Linked DNA regions of Homo sapiens: region 1 is linked to region 2. Evidence: fine-mapped expression QTL. A gene starts in region 2. The other region holds a variant in brackets. All regions are shown on one strand. Distances are from middle to middle. Region 1 overlaps RASA2 (RAS p21 protein activator 2). Region 2 holds the start of RASA2 (RAS p21 protein activator 2).

Evidence for each region. PIP is the estimated chance that this variant, and not a neighbour inherited with it, causes the effect.
Region 1: its variant is fine-mapped to the expression of RASA2 in whole blood (TOPMed, PIP 0.98).

What each region holds. Positions count from the first base shown.
Region 1 is chr3:141,612,605-141,627,720 of GRCh38, reverse strand. RASA2 (RAS p21 protein activator 2) reads right to left here. Exons shown (of 24, transcript NM_006506.5): 24 at 12,377-15,116. Among named protein-coding and RNA genes, the nearest start is that of RASA2-IT1, 95 kb to the right of the region's middle. The variant C/T (reference allele first, on the strand shown) is at 8,148.
Region 2 is chr3:141,477,991-141,493,106 of GRCh38, reverse strand. It overlaps RASA2 (RAS p21 protein activator 2), which reads right to left and starts at 6,080. Exons shown (of 24, transcript NM_006506.5): 1 at 5,891-6,080. The coding sequence starts at 6,023. RefSeq lists a silencer at 5,292-6,171.

The DNA.
Region 1 (15,116 bases), 130 kb before region 2:
CTTTATGTTGCAGAGTCGGAGCACACATCCAGCCTCAGGATCAAGCTCTCTTTAAGTGGGTGTTTAAGAGGCTGTCCTTCTTTTCTGCCCTGTCACCCCAGGACACAGAGCACCTTCTTTTCGCTTGCACTGAGTGCATGAATCATGTAGGTCAATGTGATTCTTAGGCAGGAGGTTTATGGCGGCCACAGTGGGGATCTGCACTGATGGATTCTTCCTAAGGAGCTGGCTCCAGACAAGATCAGAGGCTTGAGTTCAGAGAGCTACACCTGGTTTCTCAGCTCCTCCAGGAGGCAGAGAAACAAGGGAAAACTGAGGTCCAGAAAAGGCAGTATAATTTGAGATTGTTGGGCCAGGCACACTCTGCTAGGACTACCTTCGTTCCCCACTGGGCTGACCTTGCATTTTATAGAGATGCCCCAAGCGATGTCACCTAAAAAACAAGGATTTATCGTTTAAGTCTTCTTAATTAGAAGAGAATGTCTACATTATTTACCAATTAACTCGTCGCTCCTCCTCAGGGGCAGTGCTTTAGCCCCAGGGTTCTATAATCACATACAAAATATTTCCACTATTATGATGCTCATTCAAAAATAAATAAATATCAGCACCCCCACAGATGTTTCCTTATTTGCTGAAGGAAAAAGAAGATAAACACAGTTATTGTGATTCACAATATTTGTGTAAAAGGCACCACACTAGAGCCTTCCCAAGTACTCCCAACAATAATATTTTGAGAACTTTAATTTTTTATCTTGGGTGGCTCCATGCCACTTGGATTCAGCTCGGGGCTCCCCCTCAGTGTTAACACCTACAGTAAGTCAGAGGAGGCTTGCAGGATGACCCGGTGCTTCCAGGAATTGCCTGTGCCCTCCAGAGGCAGGCGGCCGATTTCCCTTTGGCAGCAGGTGTCAGGGAGGTCTACAGCACCTGATCACCTTTCCAGATCAGCTTGGAGGGTGCTAAAAGCAGGGGTTCTCCAACTTGAGTCACCGTCAGAATCACCTGGAAGGCCTGTGAAACAGATGGCTCAGGCTCACCCCGCAGTGGCTGACTCATCTGTGCTGGGGCCTGCAAAGATGCATTTCTATTTTTTTTTTTTTTTTTTGACAGAGTCTGGCTCTGTCACCCAGGTTGGAGCACAGTGGCGCGATCTCGGCTCACTGCAACCTCTGCCTCCCAGGTTCAAGTGATTCTCCTGCCTCAGCCTCCTGAATAGCTAGGACTGCAGGCGTGTGCCACCACACCTAGCTAATTTTTTTTTGTATTTTTAGTAGAGACAAGGTTTCACCATGTTGGCCAGGATAGTCTCGATCTCTTGACCTTGTGATCCACCTGCCTTAGCCTCCCAAAGTGCTGAGATTACAGGTGTGAGCCACTGCGCCTGGCTGGAAAGATGCATTTCTAGCAGGTGCCCAGGTAATGCTGATGCTGCTAGTCTTGGGGACCACACTTGGTGAGCCACTGGTCTAATGTTTCTCTTTCTTTCCAAAGCTCCCTAAAATGTTAACTCTCAGATGGGAAACCGATTTGCAGAAGCCTGAGAAGAAACACTCCATCTCCCAGGGATTGAACTGCAATAGGGGGTTTAAGGAGGGCGAGTGAGAAAGGACCCTCTGGCTGATTCCCAGGCTCTGGGTGAAGGGGTTGTTTCAAGGGTCAAGAATCTGCCTGGTACCTGACAATTTCCTGGAAGGTACTCAGATGTGGTCACTCCCTGGGATGACTGTGCTGGGAGAGGATTATCCTGGATTCTCTGTGGCTGTCTGAACTTGGGACAGAGCATCCACAATATTGGGAGAAAGTCCTTAAAGTTTTAAGTATCTGAGCCCAGTCAGTTTTTGGGACTGAGCCACAGAGAGGAGGGAGTCTGAGGCCTGACCTTGGCCCCTTGCCTGTCCCGGGTGGGCAGATCCGCAGGACTGGGCAGAAAACTCTGTCAGTGAACGAGAGTTAGAAACAAGTGTCCAGTAAGCCTGAGGCCTGGGCCTGGAGGTGCAGGGACAGTGGGCTCGTCAGGAGTCTACACTGAGGAAGGAGCAGAGCAGAGTGTGGGGAAATGAGGGTGGAGGTGGCTTCTGAGCTTGGGAGGGCAGGGGTGACTCAGGGCCCATCCTGGCACAGTGCCCTGTGTCTGGGCCCAGCTTAGGTCTGGTGCTGGGAAGCATTTCACCAGGGCATGTGAGGGATGAACTTCAGGGCTCCAGGGCCGGTGATACACCTGTCCCCCTGGGCTCTGGCTGGGCCCCTGCTGTCTCACGTGGCTGTCCTCCACACCTCCTGCTGGGCCCATTCAGACCCGAGAGGGGCGCACTCCTGGGCTGTCTGGCGTCAGATGTGGCATCTTTGAGGTGGGCTGCAGGTTAGACATCACAGGTGCCTGCCATGATGCTTCCTGTTTCCTCATCCAGCTTCCCCCATTCCTGGTCCTCCAGGTTCCCTTCTGGGCCCCTGCATTCGGAGGCTGGTCAGCGGCCCCATTGCATCCTGTGCCTCTGCCCTTGCTCCTCAGTGGTAGCTGAGCCTCCCACAGAGGCACTGAGCATGTGCTAGCCTGCCTTCAAGTTTTCTAAGCCTTGCACTCAGGCTTCCACCCGTTGGCCTGATGAGTTGGACTGCTCTGGGCCATACCTTCCTTGTTGGGATGGCCACTTACCCTCTCTGGGCAGCAGAATCTCCCTCGGTGTCAGGACCGTTGTGAGGATTATGTAAGAGAGTGCTCATGAAATGCATATGAATGCCCTCTGCGTTAGCTCGCATCCCTGCTTCTAGAACTCTGGTCCACTTTGACCCCAGTGTCTGGCACCTGAACCTTGCCTGCACCTGGTGATCTGGACTGTGGGTGGGCTGTATACTGGCAGAATTGTGCACTGAGGCAGAGCCGGGTGGGGCTAGAAGGGTGGACTAGGTTCTCTCCCCAAGGCCATGAAAGTTTAGATGATGTGGGAATTTGAAAAAGAGTCAAAGATGCTCTGCAAATATGATTATTGGAATGTGAAAAGATTCAAAATGAGGGTTTTTGAACTGCAAGGAATGGAGGGGGCCTTTCTACTATGAGGTGTGACTAATCCTTCTATACAGGGTAGAGCCCCCCTCCTCTCCCCTTCCCTCCCCTCCCCTCCCCTCCTCTCCCCTCTCCTCTCTTTTCTTTTTTCTTTCATTGAGACCAAGTCTCCCTCTGTAGCCCAGGTTGGAGTGCAGTGGCACAATCTTGGCTCACTGCAACCTCCACCTCCCAGGTTCAAGCGATTCTCCTGCCTCAGCCTCCAGAGCAGCTGGGATTATAGGCACATGCCACTGCACCCAGCTACTTTTTTGTATTTTTAGTAGAGACAGGGTTTCACCATGTTGGCCAGACTGGTCTCGAACTCCTGACCTCAGGTGATCCACCATCCTCGGCCTCCCAAAGTGCTAGGATAACAGGCATGAGCCACCACGCCTGGCCGCATCTTTTCTATGAGAAGAGTTTAAAGGGTCCCTGGAGCCTGTCCCGAAGCTACTCTTCACGCTATTACGTTTTCAAATGGGAAAGAGCAGATGGCCGTAGAGGTGAACCCTTGCATGGACTTAGATTTAGGGCCCCAAAGAATAATGACTGCCCCGAACACAGGTGTCCTCCTTTACCACCAACTACACACTTCCTGAGGGAGGCAGAGGCCTTAGTCTCCAATTTCCAGCAAAAGGAGTGGAGACTGGGTGAGCAAGGGACTTGTCTAAGGGGACATGACAGCAAGGAAAGGAGCCTAGGGCCCTGACTCCAGCTTCCAGGCTCTGAGACACATCCGCACCAGTGCGATTCCACCGATGGAGCAAAGGCCGGGTGCCCAGTGAGTCACCTGAGAGAGGCCTCTTGGGGCCAAGTCCTTACTGAGGCTGGGCGGGGAGGCCCTGCTGGAGGGAGGAAGGAGGGGTCCATGGGACAGGGAGGTTGGGGCTACCCTGGGCCTGCTTGGAGTTTTATCCTTTCCTTGAACTTAGGACTTTCTGGAGACTTGAAGATGGTCCCTCATAAGCTGACTGCATCCTGCTTAGAGCTCAGGGGCGCACCCCCAACAGGCACCTTCCACCCCTCAGAACCAGCAGCCACAGGCGGGCCAAGGGCAGAGCGCCTCTCCCCAGGGGCTCCTTTTCCCGAGGGACTGTGTCCTGTGTGTGTGGAGAGAGGACAGCTGCCAGATACAATACATAAGTACTGCATGGAACATACTTAGACTAATAAATTATTTGTTGTTTCTCTGAAATTCAAACTTAACTGGGTGTCCTGTGTTTTATTTCCTAAATCTGTTAACCCTAGCCCAGGCGGAACCCACATGCTGCTGCGGTGGGAGCTTCTGAAGTCCTTTCTGCCCCCAGGACGGTTCCAGAACTGGGTGGGGCTGCCTTCAAGAGGCAGGGTGGAGGGACAGAGGGCTGGGGGAAGGACAGGGCCTGCAGGAGGCAGTTTTTGGTTCGACACAGTAAAAATTTCCTCCTGGAGGCCAAGGGTGGTGGCTCACGCCTGTAATCCCAGCGCTTTGGGAGGCTGAGGTGGGTGGATTGCTTGAGTTCAGTAGTTTGACACCAGCCTGGGCAACATGGTGATGAAAACGGGAGAGTCCCCTGACCCCTCCACGCAGGACGTGCAACAGGAGTGTGGCTCGTCTGTTTGGCTGCCATATGCATTCAAACCCCTTATGGGAGGGGGAGCAGATGGGCAGGTGCAGGAGCTGGGGCGAATACCCCTGGGCTCCAGCCCCAGGGCAGCGCCCAGGGGTGGGTGTCTGCGACCCCCAAAGCCCAAGTGGGTGCATGTTACAGTGCCCTCTTTTAGCCTTGCCGTCCATGGACGGCTCAAGTTTTAACCAACTTCAGTGCCCTCTTGGTACCCAGGTCCTTGTCCAGCATCCAGGAAGCATCAGGTTGCATGTGGACTTGAAGGATGGTGAATGCAGGGGTTTTGTTGAGTGGTGGAGGTGGCTTTCAGTGGCATGGATGGGGAGCTGAAAGGGGGATGGAGTGGGAAGATGATCTTCCCCTCGAGTTTGGCCATTCAGTGGCCAATCTCCTCTCCAACTGTCCCCAGCCGAACTCTTCTCCGTGTTCACACACTCCTCTTCTCTCCGCCAGGCCATTCTGCCATTCTGCTCTTCTGTTCATCTCATCTGCTTGTGGAGCCTGGGGTTTGGGGTTTATACGGGTACAGGATAGGGGAGCATGGCAGGTCAAAAGGCAACTTTTGGGGGCGAAAACAGGAATGCCTGTCCTCATTTAGGGCCGCAGGTTTCCAGGCTTGAGGGTGGGCCTTTGCCAGGGAACTGCCCTCTTCTATCCAGTATTTCCCTGTCTCCTGTGTGTATCAGTGACACCCTGTCTCTATTAAAAATACAAAAATTAGCCTGGCATTGTGGTGCATGCCTGTAGTCCCAGCTACTCAGGAGGCTGAGGCAGGAGAATCGCTTGAACCTGGGATGTAGAAGTTTGCAGTGAGCTGAGATGGTGCCACTGCACTCCAGCCTGGGTGACAGAGCAAAGCTCCATCTCAAAAAATAAAAATAAAAATAAAAATAAAGAAAGAAAAGAAATCTCCTTCTGGCCTGGGGTCATCATCACGGCGTGCCTCCCATTCTGTGCCCTTCTGGCCACCAGGGCCTCGGGCGGGGCTCTGATCTCTCCTCTTCAGGGAGCCCTTTAGCTGTCCATCCCCTAGGCCCAGCAGCTTCCCCACCTCCCTCCTCTCAGGTGTGGTGTGGAGGCCACTCCTCCTGAGGCCCCACTGTTAGGCCTGGAGCCTCCTACTAGGGGACCAGCATGGCTCCTAATATCCTAGTTAGGGTTGGTTCAACCCACACAGAGTCCCACAAAGTCACCTTTGCTCCGCTGAGCCAGCAGTTCTGAGAAAAGAGGTTTCTCTGGAGCTCTTGCGTGGTAATGCTGCTGCTTTCTTCAGCAGGGTGGAGATTTCTCTGTGTACTTCTCGCCCCTGGTAGGCTTCCACCTGCACGCTTGCATGAGTATCCCTAGCACTGAGCAAAGGTAATAGAGAGGAGAAGTCAGGGGCACAGCCAAATGGAGAACCTGGGGTCATGATGCCCTGATCTGTGAAAACAAGGTCTCTGTAGCTCAGACAGAGCAAAGTGGAGTTCCCCTTGCAGACAGCTTTGGATTACCCAAAAATAAAGCCTGACACTCACTGAGCACCTGCTTGTGTGCTCAAGGACCTGAGCTGTGTGACTCTGTTTATGTTCCACACACCAACTCTGAGGTCAGATATCATTATCATTCCCATTTGATGCTTGGAGACTGGGGTTTGCAGAGCTTAGGGAACAAGGCCAAGGCTGCTTAGTTGGCCAGTGGCACCAGGTCTGTCCCTTAGGCCTGTGTGCTCTTAACTGTTGGATACACTAGGCACTAGTGACATTTCGGACCTGACACTTCTTTGTGGTTGGGGTCTGTTGTGTACCTTGTAGGATGCTTAGCAGCATCTCTGGCCTCTACCCACTAGATATCAACAGCAATTTCCTAGTTGTGACCAACAAAAATTTTTTGAGGCTGGGCATGGTGGCTCATGCCTGTAATCCCAGCACTTTGGGAGGCCAAGATGAGAGGATCACGTGAGGTCAGGAGGTCGAGACCAGCCTGGCCAACATAGTGAACCCCCTCAACCCCTACTAAAAATACACACAAAAATTAGCCGGGCATGGTGGGGCATGCCTGTAGTTGCAGCTACTTGGGAAGCTGAGGCATGAGAATCACTGGAACCTCACAGGCAGAAGTTGCAGTGAGCCAAGATTGCACCACTGCACTCCAGCCTGGGCGACAGAGCGAGACTGTCTCAAAAATTTAAAAAAAAATTTTTTTTTGAGATACTGCCAAATGTCCCCTGGGGGCAAAAACCATCCCTGGTTGAGAATCACTGTTCTAAGGTGGTCCAGGTGTTGCTTTGTCACAGGCAGAGCCAGTCTCATGAAGAGATGGAGCAGCCAATGGCTCTCAAAGTGTGACCCCCAGTCAAAACCCCCACAGGTTGAGTGAGCATCAAGGGTTTGAAGGAGGGCTACCTAAATGTTTTGGGCACCTCTTATGAGATTGGGTGTCTGTCTCAGGCCTCGTAGTAATAATAACATTTATTTAGAATTTATTATGTGCACTAGTTCAGCAGAGGGCACGATAGCACTGATCCTCTAAGCCCACCTATGTGGCCCTAAGGGTGGCCCTGGAAGCCCTGAGGAGGGTTGTGGGGTCTGAGGCTGGTGCAGGCCGGGCCTTCCCAGGCTCTGTAAATGGCTGTTGGTGCCTGAGGAGCCCCCACAGCCCCCACCTCCAGGCCATTTTGTCTTCTTAAGATGACAAGTGAAGGGTTCCAGTGAAAAGGAGGCCAAAGGACAAGCTCTTCCTCCCACCCCCAGCCCTGTGGGGCTGGTTGTATTGGAATTGCAGGAAATTGTAGGAAGCCTGGGTCTGGTTTGAGAAAACACCTCTTGAACTATGACTGGAAACGTGAACTCCATCCCCCTCCCCGCCACCCCTCGCTGTTGTTAGGGTGGCTGAAAAACAAAGGTTAACTGAATGTCGGCACTTTCGCTGACTGCTATATAGACTTTAGGAATTTAGGGTACGCAGGTGATATGATTTGCTTCCCTACTATGTTTTAGTGGTCTGTTGGTAAAAGTTTTCACATATTTCTCAATATGTGGATAAAATGTTTCAAATAGAGTGATTAGATTTAAGCATTTCTATCTCATAACTGAGCAAATCTCTACATTCCCTTAAGCATTTAAATAAAATAAAATGTTTTGAAACTTTCCAAGATACAAGTAAATAGAGCATTTACTTATAAAAATTAGCTTGAGATAATGATTTACTTTATTTTTTGCTGCAAATGTTTTTGAAATGTAGCATTTTTGTTTTGTTTTCTTTCAAACCACCACACAGAAAAATCCAACTGAGTCTCCAAATGATGGTTACACTCTTACTGGCCACACGTTTTAATTTTTTCCATGTTCCCTGTAAACAGTGGGAGGGGTAGACGAGTGGCTGCCCAGCCAGAGGAGAGAATATCTGGATCTATGCCGCACACTGGAAGGGCCATTATCATCCAAGATGTGTTCTGTGCCAACAGAATGCAACTGTCAGTCCACTCCTTATTTGAGTCATAAGGCTGCTTTTTT[C/T]TTCTTTTTTTTTGGAGACAAGGTCTTACTCTGTCCAACCCAGGCTAGAGTGCAGGGGTAAAATCTTGGCTCACTGTAGCCTCTGCCTCCTGGATTCAAGCAGTCCTCCCACCTCAGCCTACGGAGTAGCTGGGATTACAGGTGTGCGCCACCATGCCCAGCTAATTTTTGTACTTTTTGGTACAGATGGGGTTTCACCATGTTGACCAGGCTGGTCTCGAACTCCTGACCTCAAGTGATCCGCCTGCCTCAGCTTCCCAAAGCGCTGGGATTACAGGCGTGAGCCACCGCACCCGGTCAAGGCTGCTTTTTGTCCATACACGTTGGCGGAATGGGTGCTGGGTTCATTTCCCACATCAGGCTCTTTCATCGGTTAAGCCAAAAATCTCAGGAATGACCAGGACTCTTCTGGGGGAAGCATGACAATACATTCTATAGGGTCAAAGATGCTACTAAATTGGTCCATTGTCATGGAGTTTTTGGGGAAGGCTGGGAAGATCCTCTCAGGAAGAGTCCACTGGAGGAATTATTGAATGATCTACACAAATAATTGGGGGGTGGGAGGGGCCCTAGGGGTTGTCTGGGCATTGAACTTGTGAAAAATCCTCAGGTCCCTCTGGTCCAGTCCCTAGCTTGACCCAGAGCAGCTTGAGGGCAGCATCTTAGGGCCCCTGGGTTTAGCAGGGTGTGTAGTGCGTAGCAGGGGCCCGATGCTTTTTCTAGACAATATAATCTTTAAAATCTTACATGTGTAAAGACACACAAACCCAAAGAGGTTATTTAACCAAGATCATAAATGTAGTTTCTAGTTGAGTCATCACTGTCAGCCAAGACATTGCTGTTCCATCATTAGCCACAGTAAGTTATTCCTTCATGGAATGTTTATTGCGCCTTTTTGCAACTAAGAGCAAGGGTTGTAGGGTATAATAAAAGCCCTTCCCTATCCTTGGAGTCATTTACAATCTGGTGAGGAAGTTATGATAAATGTCTAAAACTAGATAAAATACGTGCTGCTACTAAGTGATTTAAGTGGACCTGGCTTCCAGGAGTCATTAACATGGACATAGATAAAACACATAAAATCCTGCTCCTCCTATAGTCTTTCCCATCTCAGTGAATGACCCCTTTTCTTCCAGTTGCTTAGGCTACTGGATCTTCCCAGACTCCTTCCACATTCTGCCTGTCAGTAAATCCTGTTGGCTCTACCATCAAACATAACCAGAACCTGACCACTCCAATCACCCATGGCACTCGCTATCACTATCACCCCTCACCTGATGAGTGTACTGGCCTACCTGTCCCCTCTTCCTCCTATGGCCTCCTTGAGATGTTTCTCAACATAGCAGTCAGAGCAATCCAAAAAAGGTAAGTGAATCACGTCATTGAGCCACTTGACCTCTCCATCACCCAGGTCTCCTGTCTCCCATTCCCTCTCACTCATCCTGCTTCAGCCACACCAATCCCCTTGCTGTTCTTGAGTATACCGTGTAATTTTATTTCTTCTTCCTATGAGGATCTTCCCCTCATATCACATCACTTCGCTTCCTATCCACATCACTTCCTTCCCCACCTTCTTCAGGTCTTTGTTGAAAAATATCTCCTTCCTTGACCCCTCATCCTATTCAGCACTCCCTGTCTCTTTCCTGCACATTACTTTGCTCCATACCACCATCTGACATATTTTACTTTTCTTCAATTTCCCAGAGTTCAAGCTGTAAGGGACCAGTGATTTTTGCTGTATTCTTACTCCTGACACATAATTTTGATGGCAGTTTATTACTAAGACTTTAGGTCAAGATTTGGAATTTACTTTAGCCTATATTCCTGTGTTTTCCAAGCTTTAAAAGCAAATGTCCCACATTAACACCAAAACCTCAGGCCCCAAAGGTCTCCAGGTGAGAATTATGGCCTCATCTATGACTCTCTCTCAGTGATGATTTTGTTGACCTTTGTTTTTGGTAGTTTGTATTATAAAATTAGGTGACATTCTGCATTTCCAAACGTAAAATAATATTGATAATGTCTTTCAAACTACATTCTGGCTGGGCAAGGTGGCTCACACCTCTAATCCCAGCACTTTGGGAGGCCGAAGTGGGCGGATCACCTGAGGTCAGGAGTTTGAGACCAGCTGGCCAACATGGTGAAACGCTGTCTCTACTAAAAATACAAAAATTAGCCGGGCGTGGTGTTGGGCACCTGTAATCTCAGCTATCCGGGAGGCTGAGGCAGGAGAATTGCTTGAACCTGGGAGGTGGAGGTTGCCGTGAGCCAAGATCCCACCACTGCACTCCAGCCTGGGCGACAGAGCGAGACTCCACCTCAAATAACAAAAACAAAAACAAAAAAACTACATTCTGATGCAGATTCTGAGGTGTCTGTCTAGGGATCATTTACCTCATTGTGCACAGGGAACCATTAAAATAATGGTTGCTCCTTTAACTCTGCAGGCAGTGTGGTCTTCTTGGTTCTGGATGGAGTTGAGAAAAAAAATGTTAAGTTTGGAAAACAATGTTATCTGCTCTAGACAACAGAATTCTTTCTTGATGAGTAAAATTTATGTATCTAAGACTGAACTCCATCTCAAAAAGCAGATCAATAAAAAGCACAAAGCCTTTGCCTAATAGTACAAAACAAAAAGGTTTGAAATACAAGGCAGAAAAGCGATGAAATCTTAATAGTACTTTAATTAAACAAGTCACACCTCTGCTGTCAATATAAAAAATAGGCATAAGCTCAAAATATGATGGCAAATGGTGTCCCCAAACTGTGAAGTCAAATGGCAAAATGGTAAGCCAAAGAATGAACTTCTTGGCCACAAAAGAGCAAACCTCAGGTGAAGGTATGTATGAAGAATTAAGACCAAAGATCTTTAAATATGGTCAGCACCCACGACAGGTTATTCTCTGAAACGTTTCCAGAGGAGTTCAGTACTTGCCACTGGAGTAGAAAAACATATACCAGGAGTGGCAAAGTATGTCTTGTTTCTTATTCTTGTGTAATAAAGGGACTCTGGCCCTAGGTGTCTCTCATTTTGGAATCATACAATTTGAAATAGGAGTATGGTCCCCTCTCCCTTAAATGCCTAGTTTACTTCTATCGTAGACTAGAACCCTAAATCTGATGCTTTTCACAAGTTCTATTCTATACATGGGCTAGTATGACAGGAATTCTAATGTTTCAATAAATATAGAGATTCAGAACCCTATCCTTTGCACTTTGTTAACCTTTAATTCCTCCGGAGCCCAGGGACTTTGTTTTATAGAAGGGTTTTTCAGGGATGCTATTATAAAAGGGTTCAGGCACGAATCAGGGAGGATCCTGGCTTCTCTTGTTGAGGGCACAAGTTATACCCACTAACCTGGTCTCTGGTGCTGTCACTTTATATTCTCCAGGCATCTCACCAAAATGGCAGAACACAGGCAAATTCTAACATCCTGAAGGATGATGCACTGAAGGTCAAGCTATGGGGTAGGTTAATCTGCACGGGTCAGTGCAGGGCCTGAGTAACCATAGGCTCTGAAAGAATTCTTCTTTCTACTCTTCTTTAAAAAGTCAAACATAGTCTGGAAAACTCAGCTTTAAACTTTATCTAGACACAAGTGAATTATATTCCTCCATGACAGTTGTACATGGCTCTAGGGAATGACAGGAGCCTGCAAGGTGTTTTGAACACCATGGGTCCTCAAAACAAGTCTGTTGAATGAATGAACATGTAAGAACACAGCCCATTAGAGGCTGGGCGCAGTGGCTCACGCCTGTAATCCCAGCACTTTGGGAGGCCGAAGTGGGCAGATCACAAGGTCAAGAGATAGAGACCATCCTGGCCAATACGGTGAAACCCCATCTCTGCTAAAAATACAAAAACTAGCTGGGCGTGGTGGTGCGCACCTGAAGTTCCAGCTATTCGGGAGGCTAAGGCAGGAGAATCGCTTGAACCCAGGAAGCAGAGGTTGCAGTGAGCCGAGATTGTGCCACTGCACTCCAGCCTGGGGAGAGCAAGACTTCGTCTCAAAAAAAAAAAAAAAAAAAAAAAAAAAAAAAAAAAAAAAAAAAGAACACACCCATCAAAAATCAGCCTAGTTAAGTGCAAGAAAACTGAACACTTTTCAGATTGCATCATTCTTACTGGAGACTTCTCACTTCCACAGTTCCCTTACTAATAGGAAAGGTATAATAATTTTAAGAAGAAATTACTAAATCAGTAAGAAAATACAGTCTCACAAAGAACAGACAGGCTTCTTGTAATTTATTTGAGTTATTTCCAAGCGACAGTTACAAAAGTTAATTTTTATAATACTCTTGATAAGAAAATAAAATTTAAATAAAAATACATTCTCAACAATACAACATGGTTACACAAATTCACTACATTAAGTTTTGATAACTTACATTTTCAAACTGGGTACTGTAAAAACCAATATTTACTAGCAACATATTAATTTCCAAATTAATAAAAATGGAAGCAGATAATATCAACCAAGATTGGTAATTTAACTCTAGAATGAGTCTTGTATTTTTCACATACTGTAAAAACACCTAAAAGGCTATGCAGAATTCTGTCTTTACAGGATGTACCGTTAGAGCAAATTAAAGGTGCTTTCACTTAAGAAAAAGATCTGTTTTTCAAAACCTGGCATAAATGAAATCAGGCTTCAGAAACAGAAACAAAAGCCATATTATTCGTCACCTTTTTTTGTTTCATAAAAAAAAGCCTAGTTTTCACACTTACCCATTACCCGTGATATTAAAAACAAGTTTCTTTGGCAAATAAAATAGTTCAATTTGATAAATTATATTCCTGGGAGTAAAAATGTTTGCTATTGCCCATCATCTTATTAAATGAATATTAAAAAACAAAGCTACACAAAAACAAAACAACAACGAAACAAGCAACAGATCACACCACAATTTCAACTGATGGAAATGGCTAAACTAAGAACCAGAACCGGCATTTATGGCAAATTTCCCCATATCATCCTTTTCTTTCCTTCCTGGAGTTTTTAGGTTTTTAGGATGAAGTGAGCTGCCTTGTATATTTTCAAATGTGGAAAAGGTAGAGAAAGAATATCAGGTAGTAAAAATTAAAACATTTGTAAGTAACAGCAGAGGAATGAGGGCCCTGGAAGCAAATTCCTTGGTTGTCTTAGGGTCCTACTTACATGGTCTCTTATTTCAAAAGACTTTCAAAGAAAAATAATTTAATTTCACATTACTCCTTTTTTAGGCTGTGCCAAGTTGGTTAATTCCAGTCAAACTGGCTGTTTAAAAGTGTCATGTGAAGAAAAGAACTAGATGGCTGAACTCTCCTCCTTTCAAATCCAGAGTTATATATGCACACAGCCTTGGTCCCTGTGATCATACCATGATCTTTAAAACAATCACAATTGGGGATTTGGTATTAGAAATGCTAGATGCATATTTCTTTTGCCTTAAAAAAAAAAGCAGAGGACTAAAAAGCCACTAAAGAATAATGACTGGTATCTGGCAATGTTTACATGTTCTTCGCAGGCAGACATTTCAGACACTCTTAAAAGGAATTTTAATCTAAATGCAATTTGAGAATAAGAAATTTATTAAATGGCTAAATTCTTTCAAATGTATAAATCAGTGTAGTTTATGGAATCTACAAGCTTATAAAATTTAAAGGACTCTTTCAAACTTGTCTTTAAAATGAGCTGGGAGTAATAACCTACCATAATGCAGACTTAAACATAATTCATTGATTTTTACAAGTCATTTAGAGAAATACATTGCTCAGTTATATTCTTTTATGGAACAACTTTGATTGTATGCCAGTAGTCTTTAAAAATAATTACCTAATAACAATATAATTTAAAAATGATTACCCACCAATAACAAAATTGGCAAAGTATATCTTGAAATATAGCTTATGCTCAGACAAAAAAAGTACTACTAGCAGACTTACATTAATAAGTCACAGTTTTGAACAGAAACATGTAAATACTCCAAGGTTCAAAGTACCACATTTAGAAAATGTTTTGAATTAAAAAAGACAAAATAAGAGTACCATGGTTTTTAATACTGATGAAGCAAAGTGTATCCCTCAACTTCAAGGTGGCAACTTGCTTCGACTGCTTATTTACAGTTAGGGTTTTTAGGACAAAAGTAAATTTCTAGGGTAAAAAAGTCTTCAAAGAGTTGCTTGCCCAAATTCCATTTGGCTAGCAGGCAATAAGGAAACAGCAATGAAATATAAACATTTTCAGGAAAGCATTATTTTTAGACTTAAACACTGATCATTCAACTGATCATAAAGACTAGATACCATGGAGTATCTAAAGTCAAATCTGGAGCAGTCCAGATTATTAAAGTGCGCCAAGTGACTGTTCTCGAGGAAGATCAGAACCGAACACTATGAGGAGGGCATCCTTATGGTGGCCCTTATTACAACATGAAATAGTGGGTGAAGTGAAGTGATTTTCCCACCACCTTCATTCCCTGTTTACTTTCTTTTTGAAGAGATGTCCTTAGAAGTCATGTTAAACTTTCAAATCAAGAAAATGAGTACCTGGTATTTAAAACAATGAAAACAATTTCAGTGGTCTCATTACTTCTTTTGCCATCACTGATCCCAAATGTAAACAAGATGCACACAATAGCACATATTCCCTGATTCCTTCTGTCTTGAGTTTTGTTTACATCTTTAGGCAAAAGGATCTACCAACTTTCAAGTATGCTCTGGCAGTTTTCTAAAGTTTCTATCACTGTCTTGAATGGAACCTGTAATGACTGATGGACCAAAGGAAAAACACTTCTTATTTTTTTTCTTTTTTAAAGTGGGAGGGTCTACATGAACTAAATGAAAAGCTCTGAACTGTCATGAATTGGAATTTTCTAGTAAAACACAATGTTGGCAGTATAGAGCAGGCACTGATGGTAGTGAAAACAAGTCCACAGAACAGAGTGTTACAAGAAGAGATGGTTTCTTGCTACGGAGGAGTTCTCCCT
Region 2 (15,116 bases):
ACAGGCCATCAACTGTGTGACACTTGCTGTCTCTGTTAGATTCTTCATTTGTAAAATGAAGGGTAAGAACCTTTATTTTCTCTACCTTCATGTTCTCTACCTTCCAGCTTTAAATTTCTATAATTGTCTAAGAATACAGATGTCTAAAAACAGCTATTGCTTAGTATAGACTTTAGGATAAAATAGGATCTTTCATCCGATTCACAGCTTAGGCCCATTTCAGTCCAGTGGGTTAGCGTCTCTTAACAGACCCTTCGATATGTATTACGTGCTGCTGAATTAATTAACAGTCACAGAAAAAAAATTTAGAATTCAAACGCTCTTATCTAATAAATCTTAAATATTTTTAAAACAGTGAATCATGCAAAACAAGTGTACTAAATACATTTAAACACTAAAATAAAGCATCTGATGTACTGCCTTAAAGCAAATGGTTCAAGTTAAAAAGCAATAATCAAAATGGTAGAAGGGATGTTAAAGACCATATCCAAACCTCTAATTTTACAAGTAAGGAAATACGGGCTCAGCAAGGTTAAAGAATTTGCCCAAAGTCATTGTCATTAATGACAGGAAAACAAATTTGTCATTTATGGTTCTCTGTATGTGTACTGATACAAACTTTTAATGTTTATCACTTTAGATAGGGGTTTTTGATAACTAAAATTACATACAAACCTAAAGAGATGCCATAAAAATGTCTTAATACACATAAAAAGCTTAACTTACATGAATATATGACTATACAACATTTTGTTTGCAGTTCTCAAAAGAGAATAGAACTTTATTAGTAGCAAAAACATGTAATCTGATATTATTGTCAAATAATTTCATAAAGCACATTAACAAGGAAATAGGATTAGCAGCTATGATTAAAGGATAAAATGATGGTTTTATTCTGGCTATATTAGTCACTTAAGGATCTATTCAAAGAGTTCTAAGTTTTAAAAAAACAACTCTATGAACTCACTGAGGTTTACCTCCCGTCTTCCACAGAGCAAATGATTAGCAGACTGCTCTGTGAACTTTTACAAAGAACCCTTTTCTCCCCAGTTTCTATCCATCTGAAAGATGGATTCTTCCTCCATCCTAAATAACTCATCATCTCATTTCAAATATCTGATAAAAATGAACTCTTAGCATGAATACACCCTTTTTAATCTCTTCCACTCAACTTTACTGGATAGTCAATAAAATGTTTTGATTTATACTTCACAGAATTAAATAGACGGTTTTATTCAAACCTGTCATGTCAAATTAAAACACTTAATGTGTAAAGTATGAATATGAGATTTTCTTTTCCAAGCTCCAGGACCAATTAGTAACAATATTCAAATGCCCTAATAATAAGTAATCAGAGCATTAAGAAAAATTTAATCTTTTTCCTAACAAGGCAACTTTGGCATCAATTCAAACCTAAGCTTAGTGGGCACTGTGATTTTGAAAGGGATGAACTTCCTGATGCAGACTCATACAGTTTTCTCTTAATACTAACACCTTCTAGTTTTTTTAGGTATATAATTTATAAAATACTTTCATATCTAGTAATTATCCACAGGATAACATTGTGAGGTAGGGCATATTCTAAAGGCCTATTCTGTTCTAGGCATTGTGCTGACACTGGGATGATTTTTTAAAAATGAACAAGAATCAATTCTATCTTGAAAGAGCTCACAATCTAACAGGAGAAGTGAACAAATGATTTCTATGAAATGTGCTATAATAAGGAAATGAGCAAGGAATTGTGTTCCCCAGCAGCAGAGATGCTGGCCAGAGATGGCACTGGAAGTGTCTCAGAAGGTTTTGGGAAGGAGATCACATAGAGCAGGCTTTTGAGGGATGAGTAGGAGCTTCCTGACATAAAGATGGGGTGGAGTAAAGAAGAAAGACAATCCCAAGCAGAGGGAACAACCTGTATACAATGGATAGTGGAAAAGCATCATTCCCATTTAAAAGATGCGGAAGGTAAGCTTCAAGATAAGTGAGCTGGCTAACGCCATATGAAGATTAATTAACAACGTTTAAAGAAGAATATAGGTCTTCAGATTTTAATCAGCTTTGTACACCTGGAAACTCCAGTATACATTGGACAAGAACATCAGATGAAGATTAGTTTTTATCTCCTACTTTACTCCTTCCTAAGAGATGGTCGGTGTATGACCCAGATCCTGGGGAGTGAGAAAGAGCAGGCAGAGATGAGGAGGGGCAGAGTAGGGAGGGAGGCTTATTTAAACCTCATAACAACCCGTGAGATAGGTATTTTTACTATCCCCATTTTATATATGAGAATATGAAGGCCCAAAGACATTAACAAAAGTTGGAAATTAGGTGAAGATTCAAACCCAGGTAACTAACTTTTTCACCCAGCCTCTAAGCTCAAGCACTTAACCATACCCTATAGATCTTCCCTACTCTGTCAAATAACCCTAGGCTATTCTTGGTCTGAAGACACCAGAGAAACTAAGTGAGTTTTGGAACACATAGTCCCACAGATCTCGCACTGTACCACACATCTGAAAATTCACACAAAATTTTCCCATTTGGCTCTCTTATTGATCTGGTATTCCTTGAGTAGATAAGCCCACACATATGGTGGCATGGGTGCTCTCCGCAACATTTTTACAATCTAATGTAATTGGATAAGAGGAAACTTAACAAGTGCTAATCAAAAAGGAGGTCACCAAATAACAGCATGAAGCCTGAAGATACATAAAGGAGGAAGCCCCAATCCCTCTTTTCTGTTTGAATACGGTTTTTTTTTTTTTTTTTTTTTTGAGGGGAGGAGGGAGCATGCAAATGTGTTTCAGGTGTTCTAGCATACTTGCTACTCGCTACACAGGAGTGCAGACCGAAGAATGGAGTCGAGTACACCCCTAATTTCCTTTATCAAGGGTTCATATGACAACCTTAGGATATCAAACAACCAAACTCACCTCTTGAAAAAGTTTAAGGAAGCAGACAATTCAGAACTGTCATGGTTTCCTAGCGCAAACTGCAGCAAATCCAGGGTTGCTGACAATATTTTGTCTTATAGATGGATCTCGAATTCCCTGGGTTCGTTTGAGCGCATATAAAACACCTGAAACATATTTGCATGTCCCTTCTTCCCTCCTCCCCAGCCCCCCGGCAAAAAAAAAAAAAAAAGTACACTCAAGCAAAAAAGGGGTATTGGGGCTTCATCCTTTATATATATTGAGGTCTCATGTTGTTATTTTGTGACCTCCACCTTTTTGGTTACCACTTTTTGTTAAGTTTCCTCTTGTCCAATAGACAAATATCTGTCCAACTGACAGATATTTCACCTTGTGAAGTATAAGGGGAAATAATTACAGGAATGAAATCCCTAAAGAAGGTTATGGACTATTATCTCTTGAACATTCAAGATACATAAACCAATCCATCCTCACTTTTCACTGGGGTGATGTGCAGTTTAAAAGTCCTATGCAAGTCCAGAAATAAGAAAATTTCTTCAGGCTAATTTTCAGCCCCTACAGATCTCTAACTCTCCAGAAAAGAGGCTCTCAATCAGTAGTATAAAATCTGCCAGCACATCTCCTAGTGGGCACTATCAGGCTTTCTTCCAAGGTTTCCTACTGTGGTGAAGAGAAAAGCTGACACGGTTACACCCTCCCCAAGCTGCTTAATATCTTGTCAGAACCACCACCATCTCATTTCTGTGACCTTGACACCTGCTAATGACTCTTCCAACCCCTCAGTCCCCACCCTACAAAACCCACATGTTAGTTTCAGGGAAACAGAAAACAGCATCTCTTCACAAGGTTCTGAATGTCAACCAACTGTGGATTACATCATTTAAAAGGAGGACAAAGAAATGGGAAGAGAGCTTCTGTATATAAGTATACAAATACATTTTTTTTTTCTAGAAAGCAGACACTCCATAACCTGAGCTATAAGATAAGCAATTTAAAAAGCAAGAAACTGACTAGGATAACAGATAGAATACTTCAACTGTGGTTAAAGCAGTAATATCATTCCCAGCAGCTGGATGATCAATTTCCAAGCCAGGGTTGCTTTAAACCATAGAAACAAAGTGGTTTTTTGTTTTTCTTTTTTTTAACGTGTAGACCCAAGTTTCACTTACAAAACTGTTCTTAGTGGTCTTTGGCATGGGGCAGACAAAAGCACAGGACAACTAAGTCCTTCTGGAAACCCTAACCCTCAATTCCAAGACATGTGTATATGTAGTTCCATGGTAAAACCTGCAGTTACGTACCAGTGAGTCTCCAATAGACAATGCCTAGCATCAAGTGGCACTAAGAAAGTGGTAAAAATCTGGAAAATCATATAAAGGGAGAAACTTTGGCCCATTTACAGTTTTCCCAAATGTTAAATTAGATATATGCAAAAGTTGAAAACAAAATTTTCCCCTCAAATATAAGGTTACAGAAAAAAGAAAAAATAAATAAAATTTAATCTGAATTCTGAAAAGGTTTTATGCCCTAGAAAGTAACTTTAATTTTGGGAACTAAGATCTACCTCTCTGGTGTCACTTTCCAGGTTTTAAGAACTGTAATCTCTTAAGAGCCCCAGGACTACCTCAGGGAATAAAAAGATAAGAAAAGTTAACATGTCTGCTTCTGAGGTTTCATAAAATCCCAAATACGTGAACCACCTGAAAAGAGGAAAAGTGGGAGAATGTGAGCTCAACAGTACTGGTATTAGAGGAGAGGAAAATTTTACATCCTGCCCAGGAAAGAATTGTTAGCCACTTTAATGCAAGTCAATTTTCTTCAAAGTGAAAAGTACGCCCTCATAATTGAGGGTTATTTATAAGAAACATGAAGCATGTTTCCAATCTGAGAATACTGCATGAAGAAAATAATGCTAATTTTCGACAAATGCAAAAATAAATGTTATTGATCTCTCTTACAAACAGAAAACAAAAAGCACTTCATCTAAATAAACCACTGTGAAAAAAAAAATGGCAACCTGACACCAAAGGGTCGTTTTTAAAACTAAAATGTTCAAATGACAGAACTCAAATAATCTGTCCACAGTAATGCTCGGACAACTCTGAGCAAAATTTCGTATTTAGTCAACTGGTAGGCTCGCTCACTAAAGTAGCAATTACACGCATGAGAAGGAAGGGAATTAAGCGGGCTGAGTGCGGGCTGGGTGATTGTGTTTTGAGACCTGCTCACAGGAAGCCACTACATCCTGCCTTTAGTCCCGCCTGTCACGCCGTCCCTCGATTCAAGTCCCGGCCGCAGCGAGGTGGGGCAAGTACAGGTGTCCCGCCGAGCTCCTCCCGGGGCGCTCACCCGCGAACAGACCGCGCGGTAGCCACTCGGGCCCCAGGGCGGCCCGTTTCCTGCAGCTCAGGGCGCCTTTTTCAACCTCTCCCAGGCTCGCCGAGCCCAGGAAACGAACAGCCCCCTCCCCTCGGGCCAGCCCCACTTCCCAGCCCGCCACCTCCTCGGGCCGCGCCTCCGTATAATTACTGCTCGGCTCCCACCGCGGGGCCACTCCCCAGCGCCCGCAGCCGCGCGAAGGCCTGAGTCTGAGGGCGGCCGGAAGCTCCTCACGCCCCCGGACCGCGCCCCCGGCCGCGCCCCGGACTCCAGCGTCCCCGCGTCCAGGCCGCTCCCCACGACCGAGCCCCTCACGCCGGCGCAGCCCGGGCTCTCCCACCCCAGGCCCATCTCCAGCTCCCACTCCCTCCGGAGAGCAGCAGCCCCGGCCCACGCCGCCCCGTCGAGGCGACGCCGCCCCCCAACACACCCCCTTCCAGCCTCAACCGCGCCCGGCCCAGGCCCCCTCCCGGGCCCGCGATCCCAGCGCAGCTCGGCGCCGCCACCGCCGCGAACCCGCCGCCCCCTCAGCCTCGCGCCCAGCGCCGCCAGGGCGTCCCCTCAGCCCAGCCCCCGCTTACAGATCTTGCCCCGCAGGCTCTGCAACACTCGAACCTCGCGACTGTCCTGGTCCCCGGCCTCGGGCTCTGCAGTCGCACTCGCCGCTGGCGCCTCGGAAGAAGCCGCCGCAGCAGCAGGCGCCGCCGCCGCCATGGTGCCGCCCGGCCCGTGCCGCAGCCCTGCCGCCTGCGTAGCCGGGCGAGGCGGAGCCCAGCAGCGGCCTAGGCCCAGGCCAGCCGCGCGCCTGGCCCCGCCCCCGGGCCTCGGCCCGACTCGCCCCGCCCCGCCCCGCCCGCCGCGGCCCCGCCCCCGCCCCCCCCGGGTCTCCATTCACCGCCTTCGCCACCCCCGAGCCGGGCTACCCTGCAGAGAACCGTACTCCCGGCTTGGGGCGCTGGCTAAGGGTAGCTCCCAGTCGTGGCTCTGAGCGGCCTTAAAATCCCCACCAGGAGAACGCCCCGGCCCTCCCGTGATCCCTAAATCCTCCCGGGAATTGGGCTCCCCCAATGAATAGACCTGCACATCTCCTAACGCTCGCGGGAAATACAGGCCCTTCCCAATCAGGGAAACTCCCTGTGGGAAGAAAATAGAATGGAATTTGGCAGGTGGGTGGACCTCAAAAGTATCTTATTCAAAAGGAGGCAAGAGATGCATTTGAGGCTCTTCCAGTATTATCCAAATACTCCCCGCCAGCAAGCCAAACTCCTCCCACACAAATACTCTTTACTAGGACCAATTCTCTGCAAAACCTGGTTCAAGAAAAGGACCAGCCACCCCCAACTCCAGCGTGAGTGCAGTGCCTGAGACCCTCTCATAGAGAAATTCTGAAGCATTTACCATCACTTTTGTATTTCAGGAACAGAAAAAGCAAAGAAGGGCTCCCCCCCGCCACCGCCACCACTACTAAAAGTTGGCTTTGTTAAAAAGTTGACTGACCCTAGGAAATGTGTAAATCTTTGACTAATTGTTAGCTTTATTTCAAGGGAACTCTTTACAGTGAGTAAACTGCATGAATAATACCCTGGTATGTGATGAGGAAGACAATTTCCTGGTGTTGAGGTTGTTAACTACGCTGCCCTAAGAAGGAAGAAACTGTGACTTAATCGGGCAGGGTAATTCTTTTCCAGGGCAACAACAGGAATAAGCCAGTCAGTCAACAAATATTTTTTGAGGGTCAGACATAGTGATGGCCTCAGACCTCAGAGACTACACAAAGGTCAAGATGAAGAGAGCTCCAGCTCATTCTGGAGGGAGACACAGAAAAGGCCAGAGGCACTGGGAGATAAGAAATAGGACGGGGAAACCTGAAAACTGAAGACAAACGCGCCGCCTGTGCAAAGGCTGGACAGCCCCAGAGAATGGTCAGAGTTTAACATGGACCTGGCCAGCGAAGCTTCCAGTTCTGCCTGTGTTGCAGGTGACTTCTATTTCCCCATGTGATCTTTACACTTGTTGGATAAAGTGAACCACTTCCTCTTATATGAATGTTTTGCTGTCATTTCAAACATAAGTCCAAAACTTAATTTCCTGTCTCCCTTTCCAAATCTGAGTTCACATCTTATACTGTTACTCAGGCCAGAAACTTTGACTTTTTCTTATCCCTTGTCCCAATGCTGTTTTCAGTTGCCACATCCTTCTGACTCTGCTGAAATCTCTTCCTTCCTTTCCATTCTCTGTCATTGCCCTTGTTAAAATTATTCTCATTTAAAGAGTATCAACGTGTTACAGGGTTTTTTCCCCCTTATTTTTAAAGGCATCCCTTTTTAGAATCAGACATAGAGCCTGTTTCTACCCCTTTTACATTTGGGCAAGTTACTCAACCTTCCTAAACCTGTTTCTGTTTCTTCTCTTTCTTTCTTTCTTTTTTTTTTTGACAGTCTTGCTCTGTTGCCTAGGCTGGAGTGCAGTGGCACGATCTCAGCTCACTGCAGCTTCAACTTCCTGGGCTCAAGCTATCCTCCCATGTCAGCCTCCTAAGTAGCTGGGACTACAGGTGCGCGCCACCATGTCCAGTTAATTTTTGTATTTTTGGTAGAGATGGGGTTTTGCCATGTTGCCCAGGCTGGTCTTGAACTTCTGGGCTCAAGTGATCCATCCGCGTCAGCCTCCCAAAGTGCTGGGTGTAAGCCACTGCGCCCGGTTGAACCTGTTTCTTTAACAGTAAAGTGGAAATGCTAAACTTTCTTCTTTGAAGGGTTGTTATTAAGATTAAATAAGTATTGGGAGCAGGGTGTTAAGTGTCTAGTGGAATGCTGAGCACGTAGTAGGATTACCTCAGTAACTGACCTCATGCTTTTGACTGGAACTCTGGTAATAAGTCCCCCATCCCTCTCATTCCTCCTACATACCACTTAAATTAACTTTCCTAACAAAAAAAATGGAGCTTATCAGTTGCCTGCTCAAGAGGACATCAGTGGCTTCATTTATCCCTTCAGCCAGCTAGCAAGAGCACACTACAGGTAATGAACAATGCTAGAAATGACTAAAGTTCAAATTCTTCAGCCAAGAGTTGGAACTGGATCCAGCGTACCTGACTCCTCTGATCTCCAGCCACACTGAGCCCCTTTTCTCACCAGCCTGATTCTGGCCTTCCTCCTGCTTGGCCAAGCGATGCCTCATCCATCTATTTCTTTCTCCAATAAACAGAGAAATTATTTGAACCTTTGGACAAATGTATCCATGGATAAAGTATCAATGTACAAATGGACAAATGTATCCAATGGACAAACGTATCCAATGGACAAAGTATCAATATCTTTGTCCATTAGTGTCAAAATCTTCTAACTTCCCTTCCTTTTCACTAGCTTAACCCCAAGTGCATAACTCTGTTACTAAATGGTCACTAAAGGTATGAAAACAATTTTACATAAAGGGACACTCCACTTTTTTGTTCTTCCAGACAGTCTTCCTTTTGCAGATTTCGGACTTATACCGTTTCACTAAAATCCCCAAACTCCATTGCTTTTTCATCCGAAGTCACTTCTAATTATTCTGTTTTTACTGATACTTGCCTACTTTGAAGAGATCTTGGGTAATGTCAATGTTTCCTTAATATAAAATATTTGGAAAATAAAGTTTTCTTTCTTTCTTTCTTTTCTTTTTTTTTTTTTTAAGATGGAGTCTTGCTCTGTTGCCCAGGCTGGAATGCAGTGGCGCGATCTCGGCTCACTGCAAGCTCCGCCTCCCGGGTTCATGCCATCCTCCTGCCTCAGCCTTCCTAGTAGCTGGGACTACAGGCGCCCGCCACTGCGCCCGGCTAATTTTTTTTGTGTTTTTAGTAGAGACGTGGTTTCACTGTGGTCTTGATCTCCTGACCTCGTGATCCACCAGCCTCAGCCTCCTAAAGTGCTGGGATTACAGGCGTGAGCCACCGCGCCCGGCCGAAAATAAAGTTTTCTAAAGACTAACAAGACATACAGTATAATTACGAGAAGGCTGTTACATCTCATTCCCCTTATTGCCCTTGCATTATGTTTTAAATTCATCTAGAGTTCCTCTCTTTTCTTCATGATGTTTAGTAACTGGAACAATATTGCATCATCACAAACTTGAACTTCACTTCCTTCCTCAAATTATTAATGAATGTGTTTAAAGGCCATCCCTTCTATCCCTACCACTCTTCGTTCTGATGAGCAACCATTCACTACTATGTCTTTTCCTATTTCTTCACCAGTTTTAAACTCATTCAGTCATTTCAACCCATACATTGGCTTGCTTTATGGCAGATGATGTAGGAAAACTACATTGTCTCTTAATAAGAAGACTATAACCTGCAGCTAGAAACTAATTCCATAACTTGTCTGTTACGGCATATTTTTGAATCAGCACCCACCAACCTATAACATGGCATTGTAAGGGGTTGTCTCCTGGCCTTGAGTTATTTATTACATTTTTTCTGGCGAGTAGGAGGAAGAGAAATGTGCTTTCTTTTTAATATTTAAATGTAGATCATTTTCATAGGGCTGGACACTCATGAGACAGAACTGTTTCTGCCGGACTGGTGGGAAAGCAAGTTCCTTTGATCATTGATGACTTGGTTTCCCCATTTGCCCCATCAGAGTACTGTTTGATGTTAAGCATTATGCACTAATTACATTATTAAAAAAAAATCTCTAAATCCAACTGGCATTTTAAAAAATAAAATTGGAGTGGTAGGAGGTGAGGAGAGACCTTAAATGTTCAGAAAACATACTTTCAACATTTCATTTGAAGACCAAATAAGGCCATTGACAAGGCTGTGTGGACAAAAATGTGGACAAATTTTTACCTTAAAACCTCCAACTCCTTCGGTACAAATATTTTCAAGGCCAGATGTGATGGCTCATGCCTGTAATCCAACAGTCGGTTGTAATACCAACTTTGACAGGAGGATCACCTGAGGCTAGGAGTTCAGGAGCAGCCTGGGCAACACCGTGAGACTCTGTCTCTACAAATATAAATAAATAAATTAGCTGGGCATGGTGGCACGTGCCTGCCTGTACTCCTAGCTAATCAGGAGGCTGAGGTGGGAGGATTGTTTGAGCTCAGGAATTTGAGGCTGCAGTGAGCTATGATCATCCCAGTGCACTCCAGCCTGGGTGACAGAGAGAGACCCTGTCTCTAAAAATAGAATTTTTTTTTTTTCAAATTCTGTCACCTCTTGCAAGAGAACTTTAAAGGCCTGAATATCTGAGCACAATACAGCTGATGCCCTTAGGTCAGTGTGACTTCAGTTATTTCTCAATCCCCCTCCTTTTGAACTATTTTGCCATATCCATTCCATCTGCAGTGCATTCTTGTCATTTTAGTGATAAAACAAAACAATGGGTGTAGGCTGGGCATGGTGACTCATGCCTATAATCCCAGAACTTTCAGAGGCCGAGTTGGGTGGATCACTTGAGCCCAGGAGTTCAAGACGAGCCTGGGCAACATAGTGAGACCCCAAATCTATTAAAAAAACAAATCAAAAAACAAAAACAACAAAAACCCCCAAAACTCAAAACCAACCAAACAAATAAAAACATACAAAACAATAAGTGTAAAAAGAAAACTGGAAATGTTGTGCAGCCATTCACTTGTTTCATTTTCTACTCTGTATTCATTCATAAACAGGACTTTATTGGGTTAGCTTCTTTGCAATTCTTTTGGCTTTTGCCTCATGGTCACAATATGGCTCCTGTACCTCCAAATATCTCAACATCCAATGGCAGGAAGGTGTATTTTTTTTTTTCTAAAATGTCTTTTTCATTACTTTCAGTGGCAAGATCATAGTTACTTTTGCACCAACCTAATATTAGGGAGGAACGCTTTTCCAGGTAGCTTTCCTGTAAATCACCACCATGAGGTATCTTCTTAAGGCTCATTTACAATCACAAGGAATATATAATTTTCTTAGTCTAAGCAACATTGATACCCCTGGGTCTGGGGATGAACCCTCCTTCCCAAAGTACATTGCTACTTGAGACCTGAAGCCTGAACCAAACCAGTGTTTTCTTGTGACACAGAAAGGGGAGCAGTAAGACATGGAGTAGGCAGCCAACTCTGTTCACCATATCAACATACTTATCTTCCAATAATAGTGCCTAAGTTCAAATGAAAATATTTCAATACATTTAATGCCCAATCTTCACCTCCTGACTTTGTCTCACAGAACTGGCCTCTTTTTCCTTTAGGCCATTATGTACCATGTATATAAGAATACACATAATCATTGTAGTGCTCATAACACATTTACTATTCCTGTTTGTTTACCTGTCTGAAACCATCTCAAAGACTGGACAATGTTTTGTCTTTGCCTCCCTAGCGCATAGAAAATATAGAAGAACACAGAAGGCACTTATTAAATGTTTGATAAATGAACGAATGAATGAATGAGCAAATAAATGAGATAATGTGTTCAGAGAAGCTGCTAACAAATGAGCCTAGAATTCTGAATTTAAAATCCACAAGGGAAATCAGAGCAGACCACAGAACCAGCTGGCTGGGTCTGGGCTTTGCAGAAAGCTTAGGTGCAGAGAAAAGGCAATAATAGCTCAGGAGTCAGATAAGGAAGGAGAAAGGGAAAGAGTCAGGGTCTGAGGTTTCCAATCCTCACACTGGGCTGGGGCTGCGTCTGTCACAAGCAGCTCATTTTTGTCAGAGACAGCCAAGGAGAGCAGAAGCTCATCGATCATAATCTGTGTTCTAAACGTAGGCTAGATACAATTTTTTGTGGGTGGTTGTAGAAGCTGGGAAAACTGATTTCAAAGTTGCAAGGTGTTTTCATACTTGTTATTATGACCAAATATCTAGGCAGCATGTCAGTCTGTGGCTACAAATGAAATCCTGTTAACATAAATAATCCGCAGTTCTCTATTGTGTCTCCACTTTCTACCTGCCCAAATAATTAAACCTCTTCCCAATTATTGATTTTCAGGAGTGCCCAGTGGGTTACATTGGCAGAGTAGGGTGTGGGGAACATGATGGGGTTGCTGGATTTGTTATATTCTTCCTCTCCTGCTCTGGCTCCCCCTGCCACTGTCACAAAAAGGGACCCTCACCACTTTATGATGCCTGCTATGAGACTATCAAGGCCCAAGCCGAGAGCGTTATCCTTCAGAACCCGCGGGGCTTCCACATTTTCAGCAAAGTTGGCAAGAAGGGTTACCTCCCCATTTCTAGGCCCAGCTGCACTGCTTGGGCTCAGAGTCTTTAGGAACAGCCCGGCCTGGTATCCTAGCCCTCACAGTTGAGGGTCCAAGGGAAGGAGAGAGGCCAGCATTGACCTGCCTAGGCCAGGGCTATTGGTTGCCCTCTCCTAGGCAACTGCCTCCTGCCTTTCATCTAAAAGAGGGCAAGATTGGGGATGGAATGAGGGAGTGAACCCCTCAATCCTTATCACATATATAAAGATAAAATATTTTAATAAATTGTATTTTGTCTAGTTCTAAAGACATTGGTACTTATTTTATAATCATATAACTGAATTTTGGAAAACTGACTTGGATATACAGCCACAAATGAAAGCTCGTGGCCTATCAAATAATTACTCGACATGGCCACCAGAATGTAAAACATCTAGTTTGTGTATTGTTGTTTTAAGCCATGTAAGGTGGGTCCTTAGGACTGAATTCTTGGGCTGTCTGTGCAGAGATAGAACTGGGAAGGGCTGTTGGAGAGAGGGGCCAAGGAGATTGAAATAAAAATCCAGAGGCATTTATAGAGCATCTGTATGGAAGGCCAAATATACCACTGTCCCCAGCACCCTTAACTCCAAATAATCCTTCTTAGTGAATGTCTTATCTGCAATGAGGCAAAACAAACGTACTAACACCTCAGCTAAACTTTCTCAAGGGGCGTGATGGAATATAAGCTAGATTCTGAGGATTCTCTCAGAATGAGCAAAGCATAGAGAGTAACCTGATTACCCATAATAAGCATGTCTTACATGTCATAGCTATTTTATTTGCTGTGCTAGTTTTATTATATTTTCATATTTCATATTGAAAATACAAATATTTATAAAGATTTTCCAAAATTTTCTGGAGCCTTCTTTATTCAACTCCGTTTTTTCCACAGGATCTGGAATTCTTCAATGGGAATTCTTTTACCTTAAAGGGTTTTAGGGAACTGATTTATATGGTTTGGCTGAGATTATTATATGTATGTAGTGCTGATTAAGAATGAATATCACACACTTGAGAACGTGTTTCGAATGAAACAAAGCTGTCTTTTATTTTGTCATTGGAAAGGGAAGCTGTAAGGAAACAACTGCCCTTCCTCCATTTCTCTATTTCAGGGTTTCCCAACTGTGGCACTACTGACATTTTGGCTAGGATGGGTAATTCTTTCTCGTTGGGGAATGTCCTGTGCATTATAGGGCATTTAGCAGCACCCTAGACTCTATCCACTAGATGCCACCAGCATATTCCAGTTGTGACTATCAAAAATGTCTACAGATACTGCCAAATATCCTCTGGGAGATAAATCACCGCCCCGTTGAGAATCTCTGCTGTATGTTAATACATCTTTTGTATTAACAGGGTCATTGTGTTTGTAAACCTGTCAAAGCTGAGGTCTGCGTTGTTCAGTGCCTGAGTGGGTAGAGTTCAAAGAAGCAAAGTCCTGATAGTAATTCTACTGTTAAAAAATGAGATACAAGTATATAATCTAGAGCAGTTCTTCTTCTTCTTCTTCCTCTTCCTCTTCCTCCTCCTCCTCCTCCTCATCTTCTTCTTCTTCTTCTTCCTCTTCCTCTTCCTCCTCCTCCTCCCCTTCTTCTTCTTCTTCTTCTTCTTCTTCTTCTTCTTCTTCTTCTTCTTCTTCTTCTTCTCCTTCTTCTTCTTCTTCCTCTTCTTCTTCCTCTTCTTCTTCCTCTTCTTCTTCTTCTTCTTCTTCTTCTTCTTCTTCTTCTTCTTCTTCTTCTTCTTCTTCTTCTTCTTTCTTCTTCTTTTTCAGATGGGGTTTCGCTATGTTGCCTAGGTGAGTCTCGAACTCCCGTTTATGGGATTCTCTTGCTTCAGCCTCCCAGGTAGCTGGCATCATAGGTGTGTGTCACAGCACCAGGCTGGAGCAGTTCTTATCAAAATGTTTTTCATCTTATCTTCTCCAATATCCAACAAAACCAAGATCCCTCACCCTCTTTCCCCAGAGTAGCACACTCTCCCACCCACCCGTTCTCTCTTTCTATCTCTGACTGTCCTCCTGCTCCCACTTGATGCCCCTGAGCACATCAATGGCCCCCACTCTCAGTTGCTTCTTGCAAGAAAAGCTTGGCTTTGATTCTTTTCTCCCTAGAATGTACCCATGTGGCTTATGTCATTTCTATTCCTCTCTTATTTTTTTAAATTTTGCATCAAAAGTCCCAAAGATCCGGTCTGGACCCTCCACGCTCTTCTCTACAGTTGGGTGTGGGTGGATGGGAGGAACTGAGCAGCCCAAGCAGCACCAAATTTAGCAGTGGGGAGGAGGACAAGAAAAACTGGCAACACTAGTATGTGTGAAGGGTTGCAGATTTTTTTCATCCTACCCACAGATGTGCAAAGAAGATGTAGCATCTTCATTTCTCTAAAATTGTTCTTCTCTTCCTTATGAGTCTCCAATAACTGAATAGAGGGGAAAATATTCTGATGCACCAGTTTGTTTGTTTGTTTGTTTTGAGACACGGTCTCACTCTGTCACCCAGGCTGGAGTGCAGTGGATGATCATAGCTCACTGCAACCTCGAATTCCTGGGCTCAAGGGATCCTCCCATCTTGGCCTCCTGAGTAGCTGGGACTATAGGTATAAG